4 linked regions of the Homo sapiens genome follow. The protein of the gene in region 3 purifies or fractionates together with the protein of the main gene of each other region. This does not show direct contact. Each region holds a gene or a part of one and is shown on either strand. Other genes may lie near its edges.

The links. The genes of interacting proteins can lie anywhere in the genome.
Region 1: the proteins of MYO1D (region 3) and RIPK2 purify together in Homo sapiens (tandem affinity purification; one large-scale study listed by IntAct). This does not show direct contact.
Region 2: the proteins of MYO1D (region 3) and FAXC purify together in Homo sapiens (co-immunoprecipitation; one large-scale study listed by IntAct). This does not show direct contact.
Region 4: the proteins of MYO1D (region 3) and MAP3K3 purify together in Homo sapiens (tandem affinity purification; one large-scale study listed by IntAct). This does not show direct contact.

The regions. Positions count from the first base shown.
Region 1 is NC_000008.11:89,763,468-89,768,200, forward strand, and holds part of RIPK2 (receptor-interacting serine/threonine-protein kinase 2), read left to right. Parts: intron 1-1,873; coding exon 1,874-2,029; intron 2,030-3,541; exon of another isoform or gene 3,542-3,642; intron 3,643-4,733.
Region 2 is NC_000006.12:99,318,290-99,323,022, reverse strand, and holds part of FAXC (failed axon connections homolog), read left to right. Parts: intron 1-4,733. UniProt on the Homo sapiens protein: May play a role in axonal development.
Region 3 is NC_000017.11:32,491,259-32,496,594, reverse strand, and holds the end of MYO1D (unconventional myosin-Id), read left to right. Parts: intron 1-303; exon of another isoform or gene 304-1,147; intron 1,148-1,679; coding exon 1,680-1,836; 3' UTR 1,837-4,073; downstream 4,074-5,336. UniProt on the Homo sapiens protein: Unconventional myosin that functions as actin-based motor protein with ATPase activity. Plays a role in endosomal protein trafficking, and especially in the transfer of cargo proteins from early to recycling endosomes.
Region 4 is NC_000017.11:63,628,069-63,632,801, reverse strand, and holds part of MAP3K3 (mitogen-activated protein kinase kinase kinase 3), read right to left. Parts: intron 122-4,733; coding exon 1-121. UniProt on the Homo sapiens protein: Component of a protein kinase signal transduction cascade. Mediates activation of the NF-kappa-B, AP1 and DDIT3 transcriptional regulators.

The sequences.
Region 1 (4,733 bases), on a different chromosome or scaffold from region 3:
CTTTTTCCCAAGGTACCAGTCACTCTCTCTTTGATTATGAATCCCTTGAGTAAACAAATTCAGGGGTCCTCATTCTCAAAATACATGTATTCATTATTAATATTATCATGAGTCTGTAGTTTCAGTAGATCTTTTTAAACTACTTGGTCCATTTTTTGAGGGTTGGCTTAATTAAAACTGTATTAATCTACAAAATCCAATCAATAGATACTCATAAATGATAGTGTAACACAATGCCCTGTAAGTGGCCAAGGGAAAGTGGGTGCCACTGTCAGTCAGTCATAGAGTAACTTCCTCTCAGTTTCAGAATACATCACATTCTATTCATGACTTGTGACCATTTGAAACAAGGATGGAATAAGTAACTGGTGTCAGTCTGTAAGATTTGTATAACTACCACAGAGCCAAGATACAAATATTAATAAATCACAATTTCTCTTTTATTTTTGTTGAGAAATGAGTATAAGTAGAAATCTAACATTTTCTTCCCACACCCCAGCAGATACTCTGGCACCCAAATTTGCAGCTCGCTGGAAATTCTACAGCCTCCTCAAGGGGGATTGCTAACTCCTGGAAAAAAAATCATAAAATATACAGTGAGCACTTCTCTCCCTTGTCTCCATGATCACAAGCCCCCATATTATATTATGCTGCAGAGAGGCCTGGTAACTGCTTTAAACTGCATAATTTTCAGAAAAAGTTACCTTTTTTACAGATTAAAAGATTAAGTTTCTCTAGGGGACAGGCCTCTGTGTATGCCAGAGAAAGTAATGTTCCACGTCAGCTTTTTGTGTTTCTTTTGGTTTCCTGTATTGCATTATTTAGGGTGGGATTTATCTTGAAGTGCCCTCCCCCAACCTCACAAAATTCATTGAGAAAACTCAAGATGTATCATAAACAGTCTAAAATATTTTGAACCACTCCCCCTGCCAGATTGATCACTGAACTATAAGCTGACGCATTTGCAGAAAAACTTCTCAAGAACAGTTTTGTACTTTCAGTAGAAGCAGTCTTTTTCATAGCATTTAGAAAAATGTGGTATGGTGCCTGGTGATTCATCGTGGATCTTCCCAAATTGCCTGATCTTCCAAAGTATGTTCATTCTCCTGGGAAGCCACATTAACTTTTATGTTCAGAAAACATTTATTTTAAGAAAACTCAGATGGATATTATTTGAGTACTATGAAAAATAAAATGTTATGTTTTAAATGTGTCTGTTCTATACAGTTTTAGAAACAAAAATGAGTGTCCCTTCCACAAAAACAAAACAAAAGGCTAATTTTATAAGCTGGAATGCAGATAAATTAATTATATGATTAAATGTATGATAAATTAATGCTTAGTCAATAAATACAATATGATCATAATTTGTAACTGATGCAGTGATTATAATGTATGATTTTATAGTAATAGAAAAATTAAAATACAAATTTTGAATGAATGCCTTGGTATTTACTAGAAAAAAACTGTCTGTAATTTTGTGTGTATTTGTGTGTACTCAAATTACCTGATTAAGACATAGAATGAGGAGGTGGATGTGGGTGTAAGTATATGACTCTGGCTATATACAGATACAAAGTAATTGAGATTTGTGTCAGCTGAAGAAAGACCCAAAACCATGTAGTTGCATGACCAATATAAACTAAAAGGAAGTATTGGTGCCATAAAGTTATCATAATTTTCTCTATAAAGTGAGGAAAGTAAGACACAAAAATGTTAAACCCTATCAAATTGGTGCTATTTTATAAAAATGAGCATATGTTTTAACCTTAGTTTATACTGTATTTCCTCATGGAATATTTAACTTTCTAAGTGTGAAACATAGTGAAATTTGGACTAATTTCATTTTCTTTCTTTTCACATATATATGAAGAAAACTGAATATCCTGATGTTGCTTGGCCATTGAGATTTCGCATCCTGCATGAAATTGCCCTTGGTGTAAATTACCTGCACAATATGACTCCTCCTTTACTTCATCATGACTTGAAGACTCAGAATATCTTATTGGACAATGAATTTCATGTTAAGGTAATTACTTTTTTAAAAAGTTTATGTTTCCTTGTCCTTATAGTTTTAAAAATACTTTTTAGTTATTTCTTCGACCTAGCCAATTTCATGTCTCTCCTTAGAGATAGAGACTAATGAATAGTAATTTCCATAGCCCCTAATTTCTATCTTCTATTCTCCTTCTTCCTACTGCAGTTAGGAAGTTATTCCTAGACAGAGATAGAATTATGGTACAAAATACAAAGCCATTATGTTTCTTAATTGAATTGTCAAGATCACCTTTTTTTTTTACTTTTTATTTTAAAATTATTATATATTTATAGGAAGTTGCAAAGGTAATAAAGAGGTTTCATGTATCCTTCACCTGGTTTCCCACATTGTTATATCACACATAATTATAGTATAATTTCAAGACCAGGAATTTGACATTAGTACAATGTGTGTTCATAGTAACCGCAACAATCAAGGTACAGCACTACTCATAACATCACCACAAAGATAACACTCATCCTACCTCACCCACTTCCTCCCTACCACAATCTGTACCCCTAACAACCACTAATCTGCTTTCCATCTCTTTAATTTTGTCATTTTGAAAATGCTATATAAGTGGAATCATATAGTATGTGATATTTTGAGATTGGCTTTGTTCACGTCACATAATGCTCTTGTGATCCGTCTAAGTTGTGCTTGTAACAATAGTTGTTTTTTATTGATAAGTAGTATTCCACAGTATAAATGTACCAAAGTTAACCATTCAGGAACATTTTGGTTCTTTCCATTTTGGGGTAATTATTTACAAAGCTGCTGTGAACAAAGCTGTACAGGTTTATGAGTGAACATAAGTCTTCATTACTCTGTGATAAATGCCCAAGAATGCAAATGCTGGGTCATATGGTAAGGGTGTGTTTAGTTTTTAAAGAAAGTATCCAACTATTTTCCAGAGTGGCTGTACCATTTTACATTCCACCAGCAATGTGTGAGAGATCCAGCTATTCCGCATCATTTTCTAAAGGGATTCTTTGGTTTTCTTACTGTTGAGTTTTGAGAATTCTGTATATGTTACAGTAGTAGTTCTTCATCAGATATGTAGTTTGCAAATATTTCCTCCCAGTTATAGTTTATCTTTTCATCCTTTTAACAGGGACTTTCACAAAGCAAAATGATAATACCAAATGCCCACCAGCATTTGGTATTATCACTGTTTTCTGTTTAGCTGTTCTAATAGATGTGTAGTGATATCTCATCTTGGTATTAATTTGCATTTTCCTAACTGCTAATGATATCGAACACCTTTTTATATGCTAATTTGCCACCCATACGTGGTTTTCAGTGAAATGTCTCTCATGTCTTAAGCTCATTTTCTAAAGGGATTCTTTGGTTTTCTTACTGTTGAGTTTTGAGAGTTCTGTATTTGTTACAGTAGTAGTTCTTCATCAGATATGTAGTTTGCAAATATTTCCTCCCAGTTATAGTTTGTCTTTTCATCCTTTTAACAGGGACTTTCACAAAGCAAAAATTTTAATTTTGATGAAGTCCATATTTTTTCTTCTATGGATCATGCTTTTGCTGTCATCTCTAAGCACTTTTCACCAAGTTCTACTTACTGAAGATTTCCTTTTTTGTTATCTTCTGTAAGTTTTATAGTTTTATGTTACATATGTAATCTGTGATCCACCTTGAATTCATTTTTTAATAAGATGCAGGACTTAAGTGCTGAAGACACTGGCTATTGTGATTTCACAGCTATACTATATCTAACTGAGTGTAAATAAAAAGTAGTTTTTGAGTAATTAATACTAAATGTAACTCACCATATTTTTATGTATCATTTTGCTATACTTCTTTTAATAACATGTAATCAGAAAATTATTATAAATATAAAAAATGTTCAAAGAAATCAGTAATAGAGAAGTTGAAACAACAGGGAAATTAAAACAAGAAATGTGAGAGAAAATAAGTGGGAAAAATTTTTATTGAAGACACTCCTCTCCTTAGAATAAAGTGGTAGGGGAAAGGAGAGAGAAGCAAGCTGCTGCCTCAGTATTGCTAAGAAAAAAAGAGACTAATCTATTCCATCAATTATAGAACCATCAAGTAGAAATACCTTAATGGTCAACTAGTTCTCTGATACTTCACTGCAACAATCCCTGTCTCCCAAAGCAGTTATCCTGTAACAGGGAGTCTTAACATCCTTAATTGAATAATTGTGACATTTTCTTAAATGATCAACCAAAATTCCTTCCTGGTTGCTTCCACACATTGATCCTAGTTCAACTTTTTGTGATAAACAGAATAAATCCAATTTAGTTACTTCAGCAAGACAGCCCTTTCAATATTTGAAGATAGCTATGAGCTGTCTCCCAAACCCTCACGTACAAGTGCATTTTATCCATCTCCCTGATAAATACCCTTTAGTTCCTTCAACTCGTTTTCTTATTACATGGATTTTAATCCTTGGTGCTATGTAGATGCATCATTTTGTTTAAATCTCACTTAAATGTTGATCGTCAGAACTGAACACAATACTATTTTTGGTGCGGTTTGATGAATGCAGACTTTAGTGAAAGTGTCATTTCCTTGGCCCTAAATACTTAATAGTTCCTTAATAATTCATCAGCTTTCCAGGGGTAGTCATATCACATAGTTCAAATTGGGCTTAGTGTCAACAAAAAACCCTTGGAGGTTCTTTTTGCCACGTATCGTTGCTTAAGCCACCTCTTCT
Region 2 (4,733 bases), on a different chromosome or scaffold from region 3:
GCCTGCTGACAGCACTGATTCTGATCCATTCCCTGTATATGTGGAACATTTGTCATTTTCTCACCCCTCTTATTCCTGGTCATATTCTTAGTCCTCTTATTACTAGCACATTTAGTAGTGTGATTTTGTATTTGTCACACACAATGATATAATTTTGTTTGGGAAACCACTAAAAGAGAAGCACAGAGAGCAGTGTGTACCCGCGGGCTGGTGAGGATGGCTGGGAATAGAATGATGTACTCTTGCTCCCCTGACCGGTTGAGGGGGCCTGGGCTGATGTGGTTCTTTACTGGGCAGAGCTTGATTCATAGCGATGACAATTCATAAACAGATATTGAATTCAGGACCTTCTATGTGTGAAATAATGGCTTCTCCTGGGGGATAGCTAATGTACAGGGAGCCAAGTCCTCCATGTGACTAGGTCATCTGACCAGGTCCTTTTGAGGGCTACTAGTTTTTTCTGCAGAAGGTGGGTTTTCACTGGCTCTCCCTCATCTGCAGTAATTTCCAGATTCACCCTCATCCTCATTCTAGAGCACATTAAGTACCTCACCTCTGCTAGGAAGTAGAGTTTAGAATTTGTTTTGTTGAAGACCACCTCGTGCCTTAGGAACTGGAAGCCATGCTGGGTAGAGGCCGTTCTGGATATAACCTGTCCCTTGCAGAGTGACCCACTCTGACTGCATCTTTCTGCTCTACATTTCAGACAGTTGCTAGACCTGAGGTCCTTCCTTGAACCCCAGCTTGCAGAGGGCAGATCCCAGTACCACATCCAGCTCTTGGCTAGCTTCATTACGGGAGTTATGTTCTGGGGGTGGGGGCTTGATACTGGCTGGACTCCTTCAAAAGCTCTGTCTGGCCTGCAGAATTGACATTGTCTAGGCCTTCTGTTGTTTTGCTCCACTGGGACCAGGTAGACCTGCTTGATGTAGATGTGAATGGAATTAACCTCAAGTTTGCCTCATTCCTTTGGAAACTTAATGCTGGACTCTTGGCCTCAGAAACCAGGCTCACAACTGGGCCATTTCTCCTTAACAATGGCTATGTCTGTTCCTGGCTTCTTCCCCTTCCTCACCGGCTCATGCTGTTGTGAGCCTCAGTAAGCAAGGAATTGAGCCCCTGGAATTATGACAGAAATTATGCTATAAGCACCACACATCTTTAACAGTGTTGCTTTTTTAACCAGAGAGGGGCGACCTTCACCTTTCGGGACATTTCTGGTTGGGAAAATCAGAGAGCAGGGTGATAGCAATAATAATGGTAACTGACAATTGTTTCTCTCGCGTTTAGCGATTTAGACAATGCTTTCTCCCCAGTTTTCAGGAGATAGAAGAAAAAGGAATCACTGATAGCTAGGCTGGATACATGATAAGTATTCAAAACAGCATTAAAAGTCTGGATTTTCTGGGATGAGAAGCTGAGCAGGCTAGTTGAAAAGTTGGAGTTAGCTGGCGTTATATTCTGTGAGGCCCAGGGAGCAGTGTAGTTGTGAACTCTGTGATAAGAGAAGCACTTTTTCTATATTTGGGGAGGGAGAGGCTCTTTGGCTGAATATCATAATTTGTCTTACTAAATGAGGCAAAAAGCCTCATTTCATTTATTGAATAAGTGAAATTCAAACTACCTCCCTGCCATCCCCACGGATGTGGCTCATTTTTGATGCCCAGATGCCTAAGAGACTCAAAATCCAAAATTACTTTTTGTTGAAATAGCTCAAGATTTGGGGAAATAATTGTCCATGGTTGTATATCTGACTCATCAGGATACATTAGTTATCAATGTTCCTGGTCAATCAACTTCAGTGATTTGAACATTTCCCAAGTGCCAGGAGCTGAGGAATATGAAGATGGGTTAGAGATTTTCCCCTCTCTCAACTAGCTTATAGTCCAGGGGGTGATGAGGCTGTAAACCAGGAGAGGCAAAGTACTGCTGATCCCTGGTGGCCTGTTTTCATATAGCCTGTGAGCTAATAATGGTTTTTACTTTATTAAAGTGTAGGGAAAAAATGCAACAGAAATGTGCCCATGAGGCCTGGAGAGCCTGAAATATTCACCATCTGACTCTTCACAGAAGTTTGCGGACCTCTGCTCCAAATGAGGATCTGCACAAGTCAGGCTGGGGCAAGTCCCACGACAGAGACGTGTACTTGGTGCTCTGGGATGAAATAGCAGGGGGGACTGGGGAGGGCCGTAGATGAGGCGGCAGTGTGTTGGCCCAAGAAAGAAAAGAGTTGTCCCAGTGAAGAAAATAAGGACTTTTTGGGAAAATCATGAGAAAAAGAATCCCAAGTGAGTGGCATTTGGGAATCATGGTTGAAATGAAGATTAAAAGATAGTTTGGGGCCATCTTATAAAGGACAGTAATTATCATGCTAAAAGATGTATACTTTATAATACAGAAACATGGTGATGTTGCAGATTGCTGAGAATAAGAGAGAAGGAGCCGCATGTGTGATCTAGAAAAGCGGCTCTGTTGATGTTGTGGGGGATGAATTAGGCCTGGTGGGAGGTGGTAAAGAGAGACAGGAGACAGGCATAGTGAATAGCTATGGATATAGTTTTAAAAATTGTAACTTAATTCAAACTAAAATAAATGAAATTCAAACTACATAAAACAGTTAAACAAAATGAGCTAATTTTTATTTTCATATCTGAAAAATACTCTGCAGTCAAATCAGGTAGAGTTAGAATAGAAAATATGATTTTATGATATAAAATACATTAATAATATTTATCATGAATTGCTAGGAGGACAGTCATAATTATCTCAGTACTGGGAAGACATTTGATGATGAAGTTTAGTATTCATTCCTGATAAACACTCTTAGTAAAATAGGACTCAAAGACTAGTTCCTGAACCCGATGGAAGGGTATTATATTAAGCCAACAACTGGTGTCATACTTAGTGTTGAGTCACTAGGAGCATCCCCAGTTAAATAAAATACCAAACAAAGATGCCTGCTCTTGCTATTATTTAATGTAGTTTTGGGAGGGTTCTGACAATGTAGTTGTACAACATGAAAGAAATATATCTTTGTATTGGAAAGGAGGAGACAAAATTAGTATTTATAGAAATTAGGAGATTATGTAGCTGATATAATGGAGAATCAACTAAAATTATTACAGTTAATGAGAGAATTCAGTAAGTTTACGAAGGATACAAAGCTAACATGTAAACAAGTTTTCTTGAGTATCTCAAATAACCAGTTGGAAAATATAATTTAAAAATATTAGGAGTATGATTTATACGAAATATTCAGGACCTACAGAAATAAAATGAAGCAATCCTAATAGGAGAAACATTTTTTTAGAAAATGGAGAGGTGTACCTTCGTTCTTCATTGACTTGAGAATGATAACTCCAGAACTCAAACCCCAGCTCTAAGGCCTTGGGCAAGCCTCTTGACTTCTCTGGGCCTGAATTTCCTTGTGTAAAGTAGGAACAGTAATGGTGAGAAGAAAAGTAATGCATGCAAAGTGCTCTGAAAAGTGGTCGGCATGTAGAAGTAATCAAACAGCAGGCAAATGTGGAGGGCAGGCGTGACCAGCATCTGGAAGGAGAGGTTTGTGGTGCTGTGAGAGCTGACAGTTGGAGGGTTTGCTTTTTTTTTTTTTTTTTTTTTTTTGAGACGGAGTCTCGCTCTGTCGCCCAGGCTAGAGTGCAGTGGTGCAATCTCGGCTCACTGCAAGCTCCGCTTCGCGGGATCACGCCATTCTCCTGTCTCACCCTCGTAAGTAGCTGGGACTACAGGCGCCCGCCACCATGTCTGGCTAATTTTTTTTGTATTTTTAGTAGAGACGGGGTTTCACCGTGTTAGCCAGGATGGTCTCGATCTCTCGACCTCGTGATCCGCCTGCCTCGGCCTCCCAAAGTGCTGGGATTACAGGCGTGAGCCACCGCGCCCGGCCGGGTTTGCTTTTTAATCCTCATGTTCTTATGTCCCCCTTGGGGAAGGTGTGTGTGTTCATAGCAGATAACTATGTGTAATGGTTGCCTGATGCCTCCACATGCCAGAAATACATACACTGTTTATTTCTGAACACTCCCAAAAAAGAATGAGAGTCAATAAAGAGCAAAGAAGACATGAAAATCAAAAACAGAGAGGTGAGGTTTTTGGGAACCAGCGTGGCTAGAGGCAGGAAGCCTAGTGGCTGGCATATGGGTGTGGGAATCCTGGAGTCAGATCCCGGGTTCACATCTGGGGCATCACCGCTTACCAGCTCTTTGATTTCACACAAATAACTTGAGTTGTTCATTTGCAAAATGAGGTTCAGAACAATACCTACATCACAGTGGGTGGGGACTAAATGAAATGCTTTCTGTAAAGTACTTACTGCAGGGCCTGACCCATAGGAAGTGCTAAATAAATAGTTATTCTCATAATCACTGTCACTGATTTTGTATGTAACACAACTTCATTGGAAACATTGTTTTCTGGGAAAAATGTCTTTATAACAAAAATCATTTTTCTGATTTTAGAATTTATTGTAGAAATTTGGGAAGGCTCAGAAAAGCATAAGGAAGGAAAATAAGTCACTGCAATTTTTAAAAAATATATTTTCCCATCCCTCTCTCACTTCTTGTTGCTGTAATCTTCTAACCCATTGCTAACAACTGTTACCATTTTGGTGCATATGTTTCCAATATTTTTATGCATAATTTTGAATCATCTATATATACATATTTGTACATATATATTTTCCATTTCTTCTATTTTGTGTGTGTGTGTGTGTG
Region 3 (5,336 bases):
GAGGGCTGCAGGGGCCCCACCTGGACCCCGCCGCCAAGGGCTGCACATGAGCCCTGCAGAGCGGCCCTGGTGCCCACAAGAGTAGAAGAGGGCCTGAGTCACGGCCTCTGCTGGGCTCTGCTATTTTTATGTCCAAGTCTGGTTAAAAATAGCTGTCTAAGCTCAGGTTTTAGCTGCAGCTGACAAGACATTAAGTATTAGATACGTAATGCCCACAAGTGACAACCGGGGTCTCTTCCTGTGTCCGTGAGAAAGCAGGGGGGAGACAGCCATGAGGAGAGCCCCTGAGCACCCCGCACTTACCTCTGAAACTTTGGGGCCTGCTGTGGGGCGCGCCCACCAGGTGTCCTCAGAAAGCGTGTGCTGGGCCAGGTGCTCTAGTGACACCCATTACTCTGGGCACGCTGACCCCGTGGAGCCACCGCACGTCGGAGCCCTTTGAGCTGCCTCGGCGTCTGAGCAGTTGCGCCTCCCGGGCAACCAGTGCTTAGAAAGTGCCTCACGTGCTCATGGCCTGGTGAAGGCGACTCCAGGCTGGGCAGAAGCTCAGCGCATGCTGGCCTTGGCCCTGGCGTTCCCCTGGCCGTGTGGACACGACAGCTTGGCGTTCACTGCCCAGCACTAAGAGCAGCTCCGTAAGTCCAGCAGAGCGTTCAAAGCGGGACCAACCTGCCCACGCCCCAGACGCCATCCCGAGAGCAGTGAAAAATTCCCAGGGCTTTCGGCATACGGAGCAGAGCCAGCCAGTCCTGACTGGAGGCTCCGAGGTCAGGAGGCTTCCTCCTTTCTCCTCTCCCCTCCCAGCTCAGAGCTGACAAGGCACAAGCTGAGGTACAGCGTGGGATTGTGCTGCCTGTGTGAGCAAACATTGGGGTGCCAGCCTATCGCGACAAGTGTCTCTGCTTTTAAAACCAGCAGCAGCTTCTTAGCATGTTCAGCGTCGTGTGAGGAGCTGGAGGAAGGGCTCGGGCTCGGGCTCTGTCCAGCAGGAAGAGCACAGCTTCCGCCTCTGCACCCGACCTGGAGCCCGGCCGGACGCCCGGCTGAAGCCGCCTTCATGTGCTCCCAGGCCAGCGGGGCTTCCTGCTGCACAGGGTTCCCTGCAGCCCCCGGTGGGGCACCGGCTGCACTGTTCTGCAGCCTCCAGGGTGGCAACCAGCCAAGCGGCCCAGCTCCAGATGAGAGCAGCCTCTCGCTTGGGGAAACCCAAGTCAGGCCCACTTCCACCAGCCGGGGTGTGACAGGCAGGGACCAGCCAGGAGCAGGAGACATCTCTCTCTCTCTCTCTCACTGGGGCATGTGGCACGGGTCTCCCGCAGGATGGATTAGTGTCAGAGTCAGAACCCCAGCCCTGGTACACCGAAGGACCCAGGGGCTTGGTCCTCAGCCCCAGCCAGAGACCTGGTGGCGTCTGTTCAACCACATGGCCCTCCACTGTCCAGTCCCATGCGCTGGCATGGGAGCCAAGGGCCCTGCCATGGTGCCGAGGCTGTGGTTGGAGGCCCAGCTAGTGCCACACTCGCCTTGCCTCGGCCTCTCTGGGGCCCTTCAGGCATCCTCCTGGCACTTGTGGAGGAAGCAGGCTGCGCCGGAGCCAATGGTGGCCGGGAGCTGCCGGGCAGGTGCCCTGTTCTCATGCTGCCTGCTAACTGCCCGTCTGGTGTTTTTGGTTCCTGCAGTGAGAAGCGCCACCTTCAAGTGAACGTCACCAACCCAGTACAGTGCAGCCTGCACGGGAAGAAGTGCACCGTCTCCGTGGAGACGCGGCTCAACCAGCCCCAGCCCGACTTCACCAAGAATCGCTCGGGCTTCATCCTCAGCGTGCCCGGGAACTGACGCCCCGCGGAGGCCTGGCCCGGAGCCCGGCCACACTCCGAGTCCTGGGTCCCAGTCCAGCTGCTGCCTCCCAACCCATGCCCGCTAGAAACCTGCTGCGAGGGCCCCTCCCAGAGGAGCCCCGCCCCTGTAAGATTTCCTTCCTGGTTTTCTGCCTTTGGTATCATCTTCCTCTGTCCTTACTGTCCACGGTCCCTGTTCAATAAGCCAAAGACCCTGGTGCCCCGCCCAGACCCCTGGGCTGACGTCCAGACCAATCTCACCCCAGAGGCAACTGGATGGTGCCTTTAGTTGGTGCGGATGCCCCGTGGCCAGGTCAAGTCAGAGCACCTGGACAGGTGTCCTCCCTGCTGCTGACCCTGCAGAGGGAAGGGGTGGGGATGCAGGACCCCACTCTGCGGGAGCCCCATAGCCACCTCTCTTGCCCAAGGTGAGCCAGCCCTGGGGACCCAGCTCAGGGAGGCTCTGCTCAGAGTTCGGCGGACCCACCCCAACCCAACTCCCAGCCGCCAGCCAAAGCCACTGGGTGAGCAGAGTCACCCACAGGGCCAGCCCCTCAGCCAGGAGCCAGTGGCAGGAGCGGAACAGCCCATCCAGCAGAGTGAGTCCATCCTTCCCAGGTTCTCCCCTGGGAGACTCCCTTTGCCACCAAGGCCCCCACCAGGGCCTCTGACCACCGCTCTGGAGAGGACAGTGTGGCATGCTCCAAGGATCATCTTACTTAACTCGCAGCCTGTGGCTGTGGTCCTCTTATAGATACTTTCACCGTTTGCAGGGTTGCTAATCAGATACCTGCTGTCACCACACTTGGGTCAGGAACCCTAATGAGAACGGGGAGCTGCCAGGGTGAGGGCAGCCCTCAGGGTCGGCCGCTTTCCCTCTGGACCACCTCCCGCTGCGTTTCCTACTCAGAGAAACAGCAAGGGCGGGGTCAAGACACGGGATGACGGGAAGCAGGAAGCGGGGCAGCAGCACAGCGTGGGGTCCTGGCACTGCAGGCCAGGCCAGGATGCCCACCCCGCCCTCTACACGGCCCCTTGGGGCCTGCGCCCGTGAAACTGGTGCCAGGGAGCACTGCCAGCTTGCCAGTTTCTGCCCAGCAAAAGCACGTATGCTTCAGGGGCCTTCTGAGACCACCTTCCCCACTGAGCCCCAGCTGCTGAGAAGGCCTTGAGGGAAGTAGAGGCTGGGAGCAAATGCCCCATGCGGTGAGAGGATGAGGGGAGCCTACGCCTCAGGCATGTGGTGAGAGGATGAGGGGGAGGGAGCCAACGCCTCAGGTGGAGTGGGCAGAGGTGCAAGAGAGGGATGTACTGAAGCTTCTTCCCGTCCTGCCACAGACACTTCTCCTGCCTTCCCACCCTGACCCGGCAGAACCCACCAAGTGCCTGTGTGCAGCCTCCTGTGCCTCACCCAGGGCCTGACCCCAGAGTGGTCCCAACAACCCGGTCTCATGCCCACTCCCCATCCCTGCTTCCCAAAAATTGCACTGTGTGCAGTTTGCAACAAAGAATCCCGCTGGCATCCTGTCCTTGGGAACCCTTTCTCATTCTCCAAGCCTGGTCAGCTGCCTGCACAGGCAGAGGTGCCCTCAGCCCAGATTAGCAACACTCATAGTTTTGCCAATTACCAGTAGACACTAGTGGAACCATCTAACTGGAACTTCCTCTCTCCTTCCACTTATTTCCTCAAACTTGTTGCTTTACACTAGACACATGCAAATGTATGTTTTAAACACACCAAAACAGATCATGCCAAATGAGTTGCCTGTCAAAGGCTGGAGGGCAGGAGGAGGGCCTGGGTTTGGGTTCTTTCCTCCCAGCCTTTGGATGGTGCCTTGGGCCCCTTAGCCCCAGCGCCAGGGCCTCCCAGCTGAGGCCACAGGACAAGCACTTTTTTATGATGTACTAAAAGCCACAGTATGTGGCAACTGCAAAAGGATCAGGAATTTAGGGTATGATCTCGGTCACGTGTCCCGGGCGCTGAGGGGAAAGGAAGCGGGCATGATTGTAGACAATGAGGGGGTTCTCTTGATGTAATGAAATGCAATTTTATGGTTTGGTGCAAAAACTCCTATTTTCCAGTAAATTAACTTTATTTCTAAAGCATATTTTGATTTGCCATCAAGAGCAATAAAGCATTAAATCTTATTTTTAAAGGTGTTCTGCTTATCTGTCACTGAAAACTTGGTGAAATTTTTGCTTAAATAAAGTCAACCATTATCTGGGAGGATAGAAGGGAGAATTAAGCACAAATCATGTAAAATGGAGGATGATTTGCCTGAGGCTTTTGAACAAAAAGTGAGCAAGAAGCAAGCTGTGGACCGGAGGTGTGAGGAGGGAAGGAGGCCGTGGGGTTGAGTCCCAGCACTTTCTCCTGCCATCTTGAGGCCTGTGCGCTGGCAGCTGGAAGCACACTGCTTAGTGCCAGGGAATATGTTTACTGCAATAGAAGCACGTATGTAGAAAGGAAAGGCTCAGAGACCTACAGCAGCAGACTGGGGACAGGCCAGGCCAGCGGAGTGAAAGGTGCTGGGAGGAAGTGTGGGGGCGGCAGGGAGAGTGAGAGGAAGCAGCAGCTCCTCCTGGGGAAGGGAGCAAGGCCCTGAGGGAGCAACAGGGCATGGCCAGCACCCAAGGGTCCTGCAGCCAGGGTGCTTCCGGTCACTGGTCATTGGCAGAAAAGAACACGCAGCGGTGGCTTCTGTAACTCAGACGAAGGCAGTTGCTTTGTGGAAAGCAAGTGGCCTTGATCACAAGGCTGACAGCTCCCAAGCTACAACTTGAGGACAAGAAAGACTTTCCTAGTACTCAGGAGCAGCTTCAGACCGCAGGGTGCAGGGCCTGGGGAGGGCCACATCCAGCATCCCCATAACCCTCTTCCTGAGGCTGACGCTGGTGGCACGTGCAGGCCTCAGGCTGGCAGTCAGGACAGGTACAGATAGAGCTGGTAGGAACCCCACCCTTGCCGCAATTATGGGCTGGAGTGGCTGCTTCCCTGGGAGCCACAGGGCTGGATTTCTCCCTCCTGGAAACCCGCATGGAGCTAAACCTGCAGGGTTGGCCCATGTGGACGCCAGCCCACCCCTGCTGGCCTGGGAGACCCCGGGGGAAGGGAGCACAGAGCAGAGCCAAGCCCAAGAATACGTGGGAGCAGCAGCTTCAGAGTCACACCTCGACACAGGGAGTCTAGGGTCCAGAGCCCCTGCAGGACCCACCCGGCCAGACCTCACCAGGCCATGCTTGGGCCTGACCCTCCTTGGCCGGAGGTTCCAGTCACCCAGCTCTGCCACGGGAGCCTTTGGGAAACAGCTGCCCTCACCTCGGCCGACGCTAAACCAAAGCTGACTTAACCTGTGCTTCCTTCTTAATCACCTTAGTGTGTTAAGCCCTCGCCCCCAACTCTGTCCTCCCCTCCCCAATAACACAAATCCAATTATGTTCTGAGTGCATGAATCATTTAGTAAAGGGGGCCCCAGCCTGCCCACAAAAAGAGGTCTC
Region 4 (4,733 bases), about 31 Mb from region 3:
TGCCTATTTGAGTGACCTGTGTCTTTGTTCTTCATGGTCTCATATCCAGGCATCCGGTGACGTCGGTTCATCTGGAGGGCCACCAGATCGTTCATGATTGAGTTCAATGCCTCCTGTTCGTCTGCAATGAAAGAGAGCACATGGACTAAGACACTTAAATACAGACCAGCAAAGCTCTTTCACAAACTGTATAACTAATACTCAGGGAGTTCTGCCCAGGTAAAATGACAGACCCTGTAACTATAATCAGATGCAGCCCAAAAGGTCAGACTATGGCAATTTGAATTTTAATGGATTCTTTTTTTTCTTCGAGACAAGGTCTTGCTCTGTCACTCAGGCTGGAGTGCAGTGGCGTGATCATAGCTCACTGCAGCCTCCAACTCTGGGGCTCAAGTGACCTTCCCACATCAGCCTCCTGAGTAGCTGGGAACACAGGCATGCACCACCATGCCTGGATGATTTTTTTATTTTTTGTAGAGACGGGGTCTCCCCATGTTGCCCAGGCTGGTCTCCAACTCCTGGACTCCAGTGATCCTCCTGCCTCGGCCTCCCAAAGTGCTAAGATTACATACAGGTGTGGGCCACCATGCCTGGCCTTTAATGGTTTCTTAATAGCCCTCCAATCAGATTTCCTGCAGCAATATTTACCAATTCATTGCAGGGAAGGGACACGCTCAAACAGGGCAGTTGGTCCAGTGCCAGAGAAACTTAACCAGGAAAAATAGATGAAAAATTGAAGTGAAGAACACAGTACAATGTAATATGGTACTGAATGAAAAGATGAATCCATAGAGAGAGGATTATGGCACAGTGTCAGTCCCAGACTTATTCTTAAAGCATCATAAGGAGGAGAGCACACTTTAAAAGGTACCAAATAAGGGCCTCAGGTAACTGCTTTGAACAGAAGTTGTTTTACAAGCCTAGCATTTGAATGCCGCCACCACCAGCAACCCCCACAACTCTTTACAAGTTTATAGGCCTACTACTTCCCATGGGGAAGTCAAAGGGTAGTTCTATTGTTTTTCCTCCCTAAGCTGACCAAGCAATGCATTGTCTCCACCTTACTGGCATTACTTTTAATCCCCTTTTCTTGAAATAGCATGGAGTACTAGAGTTCTCATACATTGAAAACAACTGGCCAAAACCCAGAACACAAACCAGTCCAATTCCATGTTGTACAAATTTTTCCCAGGTCCTTTAAGAGATCTTTGCCCATTCAAATAGCATTTGGAGATTGAAAATGAATAAATCTGTTGATCGTGAAGGGAACATGAGGGATGAGTTGTTACACTTGCTTTGGTGACAACTGAGCCATTTGGGGACTTGGGGCACACCTTAAAAGAAGCAAATACAAAAGATTCCACCCAAAGAGAGTGCCTATCTTCTACCCTTTATCACTGTCCCTTGGAAATATTCTAATACCCTGTGGAAAGAAACGAACAGCATGAAATGTAGGAAGTAAAACTGCTCAAGTCTCTTCTCCCACTACTGATTAACTGATTGACTGACTGACTGAAACAGGGTTTCACTCTGTTGCCCAGGCTAGAGTGCAGTGGTGCAATCACAGCTCACTGCAGCCTCCTCCACCCCCAGGCTCAAACAATCCTCCACCTCAGCCTCCAGAGTAGCTGGGACTACAGGTGCACACCACCATGCCCTGCTAATTTTTGTATTTTTTATTGAGCGAGGGTTTCACCATGTTGCCCAGGCTGATTTCAAACACCTGAGCTCAAGCGATCCTCCCTCCTTAGCCTCCCAAAATGCTGGGATTACAGACATAAGCCACCGTGCCTGGCCCCTCACCTTATTTGCCTCTCCCCTCTTCCTAGACGAAATCTGCTCTGGTGCCCTATATGCCCTCTGACGAGGTACAGAAAAGGACAAAGTTGCCTATAAAGAGGTTTTTGCTTGTTCAGGAAAGTAAAATTAGATTTAAAACTTGCAGGAAAACCACCAGGAGCATAACTTCCCATATGATTCCACTTCAAAACATATACAAAAGTATGTATGAGAGTGACATAGCTGTAATATAGAAAGCATGCAGTAAAGGGGATAATGAATGAGGAGAAAGTGGGTATCTACAAAAAGACATCTGTCAAATTAACACATATATATCCCATCAATTATTTTATACCTTCTACAATTTCCCTATAGCTTCTTTAAAGAAGGGAACCTGGCTGGACAGGGTGGCTCATGCCTGTAATCCCAGCACTTTGGGAGGCTGAGGCAGGTGGATTGCTTGAGCCCAGGAGTTCGAGACCAGACTGGGCAACATGGCAAAACTACATTCTACAAAAAATACAAAAAATTAGCTGGGCATGGTGGTGCACGCTGTAGGCTCAGCTACTTGAGAGGCTTAGGTGGAAGGATCACTTGAGCCCAGGAGGTTGAGGCTGCAGTGAGCCATGATCATGCCACTGTACTTCAGCCTGGGCGACAGTGAGACCCTGTCCCAAAAACAAAAAGGGAACTTGGTTTTTTGTTTTGATTTTTATCCTCACAACCAAACTTTAAAAACTAGAGCATAACATCTAAGCTAGGAAGATTGGCTTATATATAATATGTATAGGTTTATATATTAAATGGCTTAGATATTATTAAATATATATAAAATTGGGCCAACTGTAATAATAAATTGGGATCAATACAAGGAGGATTATGACTAGGTTTAAGTGTTTTCTGAGGAGCATCCAACAATACTCCTAAAAGCGGAATGCAAGGAGTTATCAGTAACAACATTAACCACCCTAAGTATTGAGAATTTTCAGTTCTTTCAACTCAGATATTGAACAAAGATGGATGTGAATACACATACAGGCACACACATACACACACCACTTTTCAAGTCAGATCCACAAGTATGACTGAAGAAATCATTTCTAATTCTGTATAAGATGACGCTATTATAAGAGCTGGTTTATCAGGTTGACAAATTCTGTTTCCAGGAAGCTAACCAATTCCTGGCATTACTTAATGAACAAACTTGTTTAGTAGTTCCAGAGCTGAGAACACACTAGTGGAAAAGTTTGGCACTGTCATCTGAAATCTGGGACAACTGACACAAGTGAATCAGGGTTATAGAATCTAATTTTGTGTCAAAGTAAAATACATTCCTAGAGGTAGACAGGTTCTTCAACTGATACTTCAGAGGACATGTATAAAGACAGGAAGTAAATCAAGTGGCTCTTTTAGGCATTTCTTCCTGGATTGAGGTTTTGTTTTTGTTTTTTTTCCTTCTAAAAAGCAACATCACTATGCACACTTGGCTGCCACAAGCCAGTTATCTCTGTGGTATGGACTGAGACTAACTGAATTATCAGCACTCCTCCAATGTGGCATTCTTTAAAAACAAACAAAACTTTTAAAAACAAATAACAGGCTGGGCGCAGAGGCTCACGCCTGTAATTCTAGCACTTTGGGAGGCCAAGATGCGTGGATCACTTGAGGTCAGGAGTTCGAAACCAGCCTGGCCAACATGGTGAAACCCCGTCTCTACTAAAAATACAAAAAAATTAACTGCGCGTGGTGGTGTGCGCCTGTAATCCCAGCTACTTGGGAGGCTGAGGCAGGAGAATTGCCTGAACACAGGAGGCGGAGGTTGGTGTGAGCTGAGATAGCGCTACTGAACTCCAGCATGGCGACAGGGCGAGACTCCATCTCAAAAAAAAAAACAACAAATAACAACTTTCTTAGACTGAAGCAGTTAGGAATATGAACTTCAGAGTCAGAAAAATTTGGTAAGGAGGCCCTGAGCAAATCATTTATTCTCTCCAAACCTCAATTTCCTCATCTGTAAAATGGAGATAAAGCATCATTTCACAAAGCTGCTGTGGGAGTTAAAAGCAACAGAAAACCTACGAATTATTTCTTATGGTACCTAACACAGTAATGCTAAAAAAATGCTGGCTATTATTATCATCAATGAGAAAAGGTCAATGGAAAAAGACTGGAGGCCATTTAATCTACCCTAATACTTAATTTTATTACTGAACTTTTATAAATCATTAACAACAATTTACTGAATACTTATCTTGTATTACACATTAGAAAGTTTTAAAAGATATTTCAAGGTGTTCAAACTCTAGGGATAAAAAGATAAACAACACACAAATACAAAGTTGTATGAAAAAAAAGATAGAATTGGCAGGGCCCAGGGGCTCACGCCTGTAATCCCAGCACTTTGGGAGGCTAAGGCAGGTGGATCACCTGAGGTTAGGGGTTCGAGAACAGCCTGACCAACATGGAGAAACCCCGTCTCTACTAAAACTACAAAATTAGCTGGGCGTGGTGGCACATGCCTGTAATCCCATCTACACGGGAGGCTGAGGCAGGAGAACTGCTTCAAGCTGGGAGGCGGAGGTTGCGGTGAGCCAAGATGGTGCCATTGCACTCCAGCCTGGGCAACAAGAGCGAAACTCCGTCTCAAAAAAAAAAAAAAAGACAGAATTAGACAATATATAAACCAGAGTATATAAATACAAATGTATAAAAATAAATATTTTTAAATATGAGTAGCTTATATGGTTATATAAGAGGTTATATGGATGATTTTACATAATTGTTAACAGACTAAAGATTCTTTAAGAAAAGCAAGCTGGCTGGGCGTGGTGGCTCACACCTGTAATCTCAGCACTTTGGGAGGCCGAGGCAGGCAGATCACCTGAGGTCAGGAGTTCAAGACCAGCCTGGTCAACATGGTGAAACCTCATCACTACTAAAAATACAAAAATTAG